Homo sapiens: one gene and its partners. The protein of the gene in region 2 interacts with the protein of the main gene of each other region in a pairwise test. Each region holds a gene or a part of one and is shown on either strand. Other genes may lie near its edges.

The links.
Region 1: the proteins of MAPK1IP1L (region 2) and EIF3E interact in a two-hybrid assay, tested with the Homo sapiens proteins (one large-scale study listed by BioGRID).
Region 3: the proteins of MAPK1IP1L (region 2) and EWSR1 interact in binary tests that used the Homo sapiens proteins (3 or more experiments, as listed by UniProt).

What each region holds. Positions count from the first base shown.
Region 1 is NC_000008.11:108,214,168-108,217,823, reverse strand, and holds part of EIF3E (eukaryotic translation initiation factor 3 subunit E), read left to right. Parts: intron 1-363; coding exon 364-490; intron 491-1,310; coding exon 1,311-1,412; intron 1,413-3,107; coding exon 3,108-3,217; intron 3,218-3,656. UniProt on the Homo sapiens protein: Component of the eukaryotic translation initiation factor 3 (eIF-3) complex, which is required for several steps in the initiation of protein synthesis.
Region 2 is NC_000014.9:55,054,640-55,058,295, reverse strand, and holds part of MAPK1IP1L (MAPK-interacting and spindle-stabilizing protein-like), read right to left. Parts: intron 1-3,656.
Region 3 is NC_000022.11:29,274,753-29,278,408, reverse strand, and holds part of EWSR1 (RNA-binding protein EWS), read right to left. Parts: intron 380-3,656; coding exon 193-379; intron 1-192. UniProt on the Homo sapiens protein: Binds to ssRNA containing the consensus sequence 5'-AGGUAA-3'. Might normally function as a transcriptional repressor. EWS-fusion-proteins (EFPS) may play a role in the tumorigenic process.

The DNA of each region.
Region 1 (3,656 bases), on a different chromosome or scaffold from region 2:
CACATTTTTTTCTAATGGGTGAATGAAAGTCATCGCTTAGTAGCCTTTTGGAACAGACTGACAGCATGTCAATGAACCTTGCAAAATCCTGTTACTCAAAAATAATAATAGGATAATTAGCCTCTTGATTGAGTCTTCCATCTCACCCCATATTAAAGAAATAGTGGCTAGCATTCTCCTCATTTGGATTCCTGAAACTGGATTCTGTTTTTAAATTTCCTTGGAGGAGATTTTCTTATAATACTCATTCTTAAGTGTTTGCAGTCTTAGGCTAGTGAAATAGTACAATCTAATGACCTGCTCGAGAGTTTTCTTTATCTCACCCTGGGTAAGTTATTAAATAACTTTTATATTTTTTCTTAGATATCTTAATGCAATTCAGACAATGTGTCCACACATTCTTCGCTATTTGACTACAGCAGTCATAACAAACAAGGATGTTCGAAAACGTCGGCAGGTTCTAAAAGATCTAGTTAAAGTTATTCAACAGGTAAAACTAAAATATATATTGATTTTTTTTTTTAAATACCTAAGCTTTAGGTCTAACCTCTTTTTCTAAGGTAAGACTTAGTTCTTAAGGTACAAACGTTTTTAAAAATAGGTGGAAGGAATACTTGAAGTTTAGAAAAGAGAAGACCCTCAAATGGGCTTTTGTTTTCCTTAAGTCCAAGATACACAAGTTGGATGTGGTAGGAATGATTATTACTGTCTGCTAGATGAACACTTAATATATACATTATGTGTATGTGTTTCTCTTATTGCAAAGAGTGAAGAAAATCTGGAACCTGGAGGTGGGGGTCATTACCTGTGTAATTCTACATGGGTGAACTTTATATACAATACCGTTTCAATAGACCCCAAGTTGGGCAAAAGGTTTCAGGCAGCCATGCTGATTGATATTTAGTGAGCTTGTCAGCAAAACCCGTAGATTAGAAATATAACTTAAATATTTATTTAAGAGTGTATTAAATACAAAGAAGTTATTGTCATTCAGTAGGGAATGAATACCCTTATGATTGGGGAAGTTTATTACTGTTTATTGACCAAGGGAGACTTTTGGTAGTAGAGGAATTTGAAAGCTTTCAGAATGCTTCTAGGATGAGACTTTAGAGAACTTGGTTTGAAAGACATAATAAGCTTAAGGTGTGGTCTGGAATCAGGATAGGAACAATTGTTTTGGGAAGATGCTAGGTAATTTGGCTAGAAATTAATGGTAAAGAAGGAGAAAACAAGAAGATTGGGATATTCTGGGGCAATCTGCTAAACAATGTTGAATCAGACTTACCTTGACCGTTGACTTATTTTTACAGGAGTCTTACACATATAAAGACCCAATTACAGAATTTGTTGAATGTTTATATGTTAACTTTGACTTTGATGGGGCTCAGAAAAAGCTGAGGGAATGTGAATCAGTAAGTGTGAATTTTTATTTATAAACTAATACTATTCTTAAATTTTTGGATATTGTAACGTTAATCTTGCAGTGTCTTCCTTAAAGTAATGAAGTAATTATAACGGAAATATGCTTATTAATCTTAAAAAGGCCTAAATGGCTCATGTTTATTAACCTTAAAATGGCTTAAATGGCTTGTGTTTATTAATCTTAAAATGGGAATGTGCTAGAGTGATGACTTTTTTAATGTTGTTGCCATGTGTTTATCCCTTTTGTGAGGGAGTTTGTTAAAACATTGGGGGTAATTTAAATTTACAGACATATCCATAATTTCATGTCTTAAATCTCGAATGAATATTTTTAATATTTCATATGTACAGGCAAGGTCACTTTGAATTGCAAATAACAACTGTGTTTTTAATTTTGGTTCATAGATGGGCTTATCTTTAGAATATTTCCCATGGTTGTATTTAACATTTGTGATAAACCAGGCAATTCATTGTAATTACGAATTTTATAACGGCGGTGTCTCTTATTGTTTAGTAGAAATTAAAGTACCTTTAGAGCAAATGGAAGACTTATAGTTGTTTTGAATAATTAGTTTACAAGTTTTAAGAAACTAAACTAAGAATTCTAACTGCTAAATGTAGTTGCATTTACCAGATTCACAAGTTACTGGTTATCAGTTTCACCCTTGGAACCAAAATTTTGGCACAAAATGGGCAATTTGTTGACAAATATCTTACTTCTCTAAGGAAAAAAATGATCATGCAAATATCCATTCCCTGATGATTTTCTTATTTTATTTTTTTTCAGACAGAGTCTCACTCTGTTGCCGAGGCTGGAGTGCAGTGGCATGATCCCGGCTCACTGCAAACTCCACCTCCCGGGTTCACACCATTCTCCTGCCTCAGCCTCCCAAGTAGCTGGGACCATAGGCGCCCACCACCACGCCCGGTTAATTTTTTGTATTTTTAGTAGAGACAGGGTTTCACCATGTTAGCCAGGATGGTCTCGATCTCCTGATCTTGTGATCTGCCCACCTCGGCCTCCCAAAGTGCTGGGATTACAGGCGTCAGCCACCGCACCTGGCCTCCCTGATGATTTTCAAACATTAGATGGAATAGAAAATTAGAATCCAATATGGTAATTGGTGTTTTTTTTTGTAGTCATATATTGCATTATTAAGGTAAATATTGGCGTATATTCATTATGCTAAGTGTCTAGGTTTTGATGTTAAAAGACCTAGAGGGTACTTGGTTGCTGTTCTTGAAATTAAAATATTCTCTCTTAATTACACCATCTGTGGAATAGTAGCCACCTTTTGCATTCTTTTCCTTCTAATTTCTAAGTCTACTTAATATTGTAGAAATACTCCGAGCTTGTAGTCCATTTATAATTATTTTAAATAGTTGGAAGAGATAACATTATCTGCAGAGCATTTATGTAGAATAATGGATAGTACCAAACTTTGTTGTCAGAAGGCTACTTTATTAAAGTTATCAGAAACATTGCAGTTTTTAGGTCTTTATCTTGTGGTATTCGTTTACTACTTATTTAAATCATTAAAGATTTGAACACAGTGTTCTAGAAAGTGCTGTGGTATAAAACTCATGATTGTAGAATGGAAAAATAAAGCAGATAAAGTATTTGATTCACGTTTCAGGCAATTGCTTGTCAGCATCATTAATTTTTGTTGTATTTGTACATATAGGTGCTTGTGAATGACTTCTTCTTGGTGGCTTGTCTTGAGGATTTCATTGAAAATGCCCGTCTCTTCATATTTGAGACTTTCTGTCGCATCCACCAGTGTATCAGCATTAAGTAAGAACACCGTGATTTGATTTGGATTTTCTACTTTAAAATTCCTGGAAATTTCCATTTATTGTGAATTTACACTTAATAGAATTCCAGTTAATTGGATTTTTATTTATTTTTGCTTTCAGAAGAACAATGAAACAATTTGATAAAATTATTTAAAAACCTAACTTTTGCTACAGGCTCAGATAGTTTTAGCTTGAGTGGCATAATTTTTCAAAATACTAAGTTGAAGGCAATATATGATTATCAGTTACCTTATTGAAGAGTAAATACTCTTGTACCTTTACGTAAGGAGAAAAGTGTAGTAAACATTTCTAAAATGGTTTTCAACAACAGTACAAAGGAGATACCCATTAAATTGGAAATTCTGTTGAAAGACCACTACATTTGGTAATCCTTTCCATTTAGTTTGTATGATTTAATTACATATTTGACTTCTCCT
Region 2 (3,656 bases):
TTGTTATAATGTTGATGAGAAGAAAAAACAAAAAGTCTCAGCTGAGGTCACTGTCTGTGTGAAGCTGGCTCATTCTCCCATCTTTATGGGTCTTCTCCAAGTACTCCAGTTTCCTCCCATATCCCAAAGATGCACATGAATGGATGTGTCTACGCGGCCCAGTCTGTGAGCGTGGGTGTAGGTGAGAGCACCCTGTGCTGGGATGGCGTCCAGTTCAGGGCTGGTTCCCAACTTGGACTCTGAATTGCCAAGAAAGGCTCCAGCCATTGAGACCCTGAACTGGAAGAGGGAGGCAAATAATTATCTTTTTATTAATCTTTCTTAAATGTATACACAGCTCACATTCATTCAATTTTTTTTTGAGACAGGGTCTTGCTCTGTCACCGAGGCTGGAGTGCAGTGGTGTGATCACAGCTCACTGCAACCTCCACCTCCCAGGCTCAAGTGGATCCTCCCACCTTAGCCTTTGAGTAGCTGGGACCATAGGCATGCTAATTTTTAAAATTTTTAGTAGAAATCATTTAAATTTTTTTTTTTTTTTGAGATGGAGTCTCGCTCTGTCGCCAGACTGGAGTGCAGTGGCGCGATCTTGGTTCACTGTAACCTCCGCCTCCTCAGTTTAAGCGATTCTCGTGCCTCAGTCTCCTGAGTAGCTGGGACTACAGGTGCGGGCCACTACACCCACTAATTTTTGTATTTTTAGTAGAGACGGGGTTTCACCATGTTGTCCAGGATGGTCTCCATCTCTTGACCTTGTGATCCGCCCACCTTGGCCTCCCAAAGTGCTGGGATTACAGGCGTGAGCCACTGCGCCCAGCTCATTTAAATGTTTAATACTAGAAGTGTTTTGGGTTTTATTTAAAAGTTTAGTGATGTTTTTGTTACCAGAAATATGCCATAGGAATTTAACTCTTCTTTATATTAATTAACCTAGGGTAGGAAGCATCATTACTGAATTATTTTATTCTTCAAAGTTTCTCACTTGATTCTCTGGTATTTCCAGATAAAAAATACGCCATTTGCAAAAAATAACTTTCCTTCTCTAATATTTATGCATCTTTTCTGTTTTGCACTTGCTAGGACTTAAATAATGAAATGTTGAGTGATAGTGGGCACAGAGGTCTTGCTCCAACTCTCCTGGGAATGCTAATGTTTAAGTATGATTCCCATTTTTAGTTTGAGATTTTAAAAAATTACATTATTTTTAATTTATGCCTATGCTATTATTTATTCCTATTCTGTTAATAAAGAAAGCAAGAAGACATTAAATTCCCTCAAAAGACTTTTCAGTATCTAATGAATTGATCTCATGCTTTTTCTCCTTTGACCTATCAATACAGTATTAACATAGAGCCACCTTTGTATTCTTAGCATCTTATTTCTAATTATGATTTGATTATCATGAGGAAAGGACAAGAACATAAAGGACAAGAACCCAAGCCTATCCCAACTGCTATATCCTTTTTATTCAGAATATCAAAAAACATGGCCGGGCGCGGTGGCTCACGCCTGTAATCCCAGCACTTTGGGAGGCCGAGGAGGGCGGATCACGAAGTCAGGAGATTGAGACCATCCTGGCTAACAAGGTGAAACCCCGTCTCTACTAAAAATACAAAAAATTAGCCAGGCATAATGGTGGGCACCTGTAGTCCCAGCTACTCAGGAGGCTGAGGCAAGAGAATGGCGCGAACCCAGGAGGCGGAGCTTGCAGTGAGCTGAGATCAAGCCACTGCACTCCAGCCTGGGTGACAGTGCAAACTCCGTCTCAAAAACAAAAAAACAAAAAAACCCACATACAACCCATTCCCATGTTAAGGTTTAACGTCAATCACATCACACAATAAAATTTTTAGGACTAACAGTGTAGAAAATATACGGTAAGTTGTAAGGCTAACATGCTTTTTAAACAGGGTTAGCCTTTCTGAAATAGAAAATGATTCTGTATCAAAGTTCATATTAATTCTGGAGTTGAGAATCAAAGTGAACCAAATGGCCTTGACTGTTCAGGTTTTCAGAATTATACAGTTACCTAGTCATGGAATTACATAAATTATTCTACAAGTTAATAATATTCAACTGATTCACAACACTACTTCAAAATTTTAAAGTTCAAAATCCAAGTCTGGAAGATAGGGGAGGTGCTAGAATCTTGTGATTAAAAAACAAAGCCCTAAGCATAGGAATTAGTAACAAGTTCTGTTCTACGGCACTGTCTTAGTAAAGTGACCAGCTCTCCATTCCTAGAATAAACAGCGTTCATGTTAGGGTGATCCCCCCTTATCTGTGGTTTTAATTACCTAAGGTCCGAACATATTAAATGAAAAATTCCAGAAATAAATAATTCGTAAGTTTTTTGTTTTGTTTTTGAGATGGAGTCTCGCTCTGCCACCCAGGCTAAAGTGCAGTAGTGTGATCTTGACTCACTGCAACCTCCGCCTCCCAGGTTTAAGTGATTCTCCTACCTGAGCCTCTCAAGTAGCTGGGATTATAGGCACGTGCCACCACGCCCGGCTAATTTTTAATTTTTGGTAGAGACGGGGTTTCACCATGTTGGCCAGGCTGGTCTCAAACTCCTGGCCTCAAGTAATCCGCCCACCTCAGTCTCCCAAAGTGCTGGGATTAGGCATGAACCACTGCACCTGGCCAATTCCTAAGTTTTAAATGGGGCAAGAGCATGTTCTGAGTAGCAAAATGAAAGTTTGCCCCCTCCTGCCTAGGACGTGAATCATCCCTTTGTCCAGTGTATCCATGCTGTATACGCTATCAGCCCATCTTGGTTATTAGATCTAAAAAACATGGTATACTTAGGCTTCGGCAGTGTATACAGACTTCAGTTTCAGGGATTCATTGGGGAGTCTTGCAATGTGTCCCCCTAGGATAAGGGGGAACAACTATAATTGGAAGCATTCCAATTTGTTCTTTGGAGAATACTTTCATTAGAAAAGGTGAAAAACAGTTGGACATGAACGTTTCAATATGAGGAGAGTTGCAGAACATAAAAAGTTTAGGTTTTCTAAAAAGCTATTCTAAGCCGCGCTTGGTAGTGTGCACCTGTAATCCCAGCTTCTCAGGAGGCTGAGGTGGGAAGACCGCTTGAGGCCAGTAGTTAAGAGACCAGCCTGGGCAATATTAGTGGCACTCTGTCTCAAAAAGAAAAATAAATAAAAATATAAAGCTATTCCAAAATATCTGAATCATCGCTAATTATTAAGATGAGGCCAATGTAACCTTGAACTCATAAAAACAATTTATACTCAAGAAAGGCTTTCTTTTTTTTCTTTTTGGAATAATCTAAAGCTATTATTTCCAAAACTTTGTTACCATTTTATAGCATGATCCACCCATCATCTGAAAAACAATACTTTTTATTCTTTGAATAGCAAGAATAGTAATTTTAAAACAGTACAAAATGTCTTTTGACATACACTAGAAAAGTAAAACATAACATTTTTGGAAACTCTCATGGCTGTTAGGGTAAAAATCATGGGTCAGGGAGGAGGGTGGTTAAGAGAGTTGAACTCCATGAATTACCAGTGGAGTTCATGGATATTTCAGACAGCCTTCAAATTGTGATGGAGTGATAAACAGTATGGGACTACACAGTGATGAAACCCGGACATGAATCCTTTTGACGGTTATCTTTTGACAAAAAACTT
Region 3 (3,656 bases), on a different chromosome or scaffold from region 2:
AGCCAATTTCACTGTTAAATGCAGAATATTTCTGTGGTATGTTCTAGCACATCAGTTACTAACAGTGAACATCTGAGAGTATATGAAAGCAACCACTAATAAGGAACTAAACCACAGATTATTTTAAGTGTACACAGTTGCTTTCTTTCCCTCCAACATAAGACTGACGCATTAAGGACACCATGGCCTTACCTTGTAGGTGCAGTGGCTGCTGGCTGCTGCCCATAGGCTGGATAAGCAGGCTGAGTGCCATATGCAGACTGAGCTGCATAGGAGGCCTGGGTGGTGGTGACTGTAGCAGTGGTGGTATCATAAGCACCAGTGCCATACCCCTGGACAGGCTGGCTGTATGCCTGGGGGGCAGTTGGAGTAGTATAACCTAGAACAAAGGAGAGCTGCATCAGATTTCAGGTCCCCTCAGAGATCTGCCTAGACACTCATTATCAGAACAATTTGTAAACCACTTACTTTAAACCATCAGGATATTGAATCCCTTTAAATATTCCCCCTTCCGCAAGAGTAGCAACAAACTGGTATTTAAAGCCTAAGTTCTCTGAATGTACCTAGTTTTTGGTAAAGTAACTGTCTCATTTGCTCTAAAACCACACCTAACAGAAATGGCATGTCATGCTACAGAAAACAGGGTTCCTTCTGCCCCCTCTTGAATGCTGTGAATAGGAGACAAGTCTGTTTTTGCCAAGTCTGTACTGATTTTGCTAGCAGGTCGTCTTAACAAGTTTGTAAACAAACTTACCCCAAAATACCCTCAAGCAGGAATAAAACATCCCAGAAGAAAAGGTAAAAGGCAAATGACATAGCATTTTAAAATAATTAGAAAATGATCCAGGTACTAGTTCTAGCACTAAAACCTGTAATTTGGGTAGTAATTAATTTAATCACTTTCTTTTGGTCCCAAGCACTAACATCATGTGAAGCACAAGCTTAATTACTTGAGCACATGATTAATAAAAATAAGCTATAAATTATAGTTGCTTAACACAGTTTATCCTTTTTTTGTAAATTATTTAAAATTAAACTTCGATATTGCTCCAAACAAACATTTAAAAGGTAATGTTTTCACATCATAAAGCAGATTCCTGCCTCGTTATCAAGTTACTCAGCTCCATTCCTCTTACTTACCTACCACAAGCAAAAGGCCTTTTTCCTGCTCAGCAATATTGGAGGTAAACCCTAGAGTCTCTCCTCCCCTTCAGTATTTCACTAACCAGGTGTCAGAAAAAACCTGGTTTCACAGGTATGCTGCAAAGCAAGATGCATTCTATCCCTAGCTCCTGCCTCTGCCAGACCAGGCAGGATCCATGCCTTTCCCTTCGGGACTTCGGCGTGGAGCATGACCAAAACCACGAAAGTCTGCAGCTCCTAACTAGAGTACCTTTCCTGTAGGAGGTGTTACAACCATTCCTGGTGCTGGACTCTTCTTCCTCATGGTCAATGGGTACAATTAAGCCATGCAATAAAAAGTTTGGTTTACACTTTGGGAGGCTGAGGTGGGAGGACTGCTTGAGTTTAGGAGTTAGAGACCACCCTGGGCAATATAGTGAGACCTCGCCTCTACAAAAAATAAACAAACTTAGCTGGGCATGGTGGCGTGAGCCTTCAGTCCCAGCTACTTGGGAGGCTGAGGTGGGTGGACTGCTTGAGGCTGGGAGGTCAAGGCTGCAGTAAGATCCAGCCTAGGCAACAGAGACCCTATCTTAAAAAAACAAAACAAAACAAAACTTTGGTCTAGGTGCTGGCATTTATATCCAAAAAAAAAGTCTACATCTCACTAAAGAAAAAGCTTCCATATTTAAAATAAATCCTGAATCAAGACTGCCCATTTTAGTTAAGATTTAGGGCCTTAAAGTGTCCTCATGTACTGGCCAGAAACAAGTATCAGCTTCCTTTTGTACAATCACCATTTGTAGCACAGAATATAATAATACTCTTTCTTCTCTACCTCAAATATTAAAAGGAAATTCTGAAATTATACACAGAGATAGTAATGTCCTTGTCAAAACTGCTGAGTTAAAATGTGTATGAAAGTATACATAGTTCCAGAAAACAGGAAGCCCCAAGCAATAAAAGTTTTTGAGTTGGCATGTTGTTCATCTGAACTGCTTAAGTTTTTGCAGAGTCCTAAGGTCAACCACATAAGGCATTCATTTATTTAAATTAGAATCTAATACCATCTACCCTACCGTTCATATACCGATTACACCCCACTACATGACACGTCTATAAGATTTACAAGGAGGGCAATTAAAAAAACAAAAAACTAAAAGTGATCAGGGCAATAACTCATGTCATAAAACTATGCAGCAACAGTTAGGGCCTTGTCATGCTAAAGATTACAGCAATAGACACTGGGTTAATAAATAACCTTTTAATTAATCTGTAGTACCCACAAAAGCAGCCAAGCAAAATGAACAAAAATCAACAGAGCAAAATGATTTAATGACCAAAAAAAAAACAAAAAAACAAAAAAACAAAAGACCAGTGGCAAAAAAAGAAAACACACCTACTATGTGCTGACAACTTGAAGGAAAAAGGTGGTAAGAAATATTACACAAACCAAAACTTTTGTTCAACGTAAAAATTAAGAAGTTTTTAAGAATTCCATTGAATTGAGGTTTATATAACCCCTTTCTTCTGAAGTTTAATTTTTAAAAATCCTAGAAGAGAACAGTGTATTTCTATGTATTCCCTCCAATGACTATCCGATAACTTTCATGTGTAAAGGCAGTATGAGGTAAGGAAAAATGCAGCATGTGTGCTTGAACCCACGCACTACCAATTAGGCTCCTGCTAAGTTTTGTTCACACAGTTTGCTCATCAGGCTTAATTTTGGTGTTTTTATACCCCAAAAGTTCTTGGGAGGATTAAGGGAGACAAGAAGGCCACTCTATAAACTGTGAATTTTATACAAACATTATTATTACTAAGTGCAATCTCCAGCTCATCAAAGCTACTAGTCTCTAAACTAGAATGACCTGTACTTTTTAGGCCCACAGTCATGATGGGGATTTCTCAACCAACGACAATGTGATACATGGCTCTAGAGAACCATTAATTTGCCTATAAATCACTCCGTCTCATTCCTGTAAAATGATCTAAGGATTCGGAAGGCTAGATCTAGGCCACATTAACTTTCACATCATGCTTGTTTTAAAAAATGTAATGGCTTTAATACATGAAGTTTATCTCACAATTTCAAAATTCTATGCTAAAAAATCCAAACTGCATAACCTTAGTTCCAGCTCTTCCCACAGCTGCAATTAACACCACTAGAAAGTTTAGATAAACATTTCCCATCCTATTTGAGAAACACCCTAGAAGAGGTTAGGAATTACTTCCCATCAAAATCAGGACACTGGTACTCAATGAGATAAATTACAGACAGGTTTTTCCCCTTAACTGGACTATATATAATTTGGAGAACTAAAGACAGTTTGAAAATAAGAGCTCTGATATCTTTAAGACTTTATTAGAGTCTTTTATAACAGCAATAATAAAAGGGCAGGGGGAGACAGCCTGAAACATTACACAGCACTGAACACAAAAAAATTATCATAGGTTTTTCATGTATCCCACCCAACCTCAGTATCGGAATACAATTTCTTCTAATTCTTAGAATAGTTTATTTTTTAGTATCT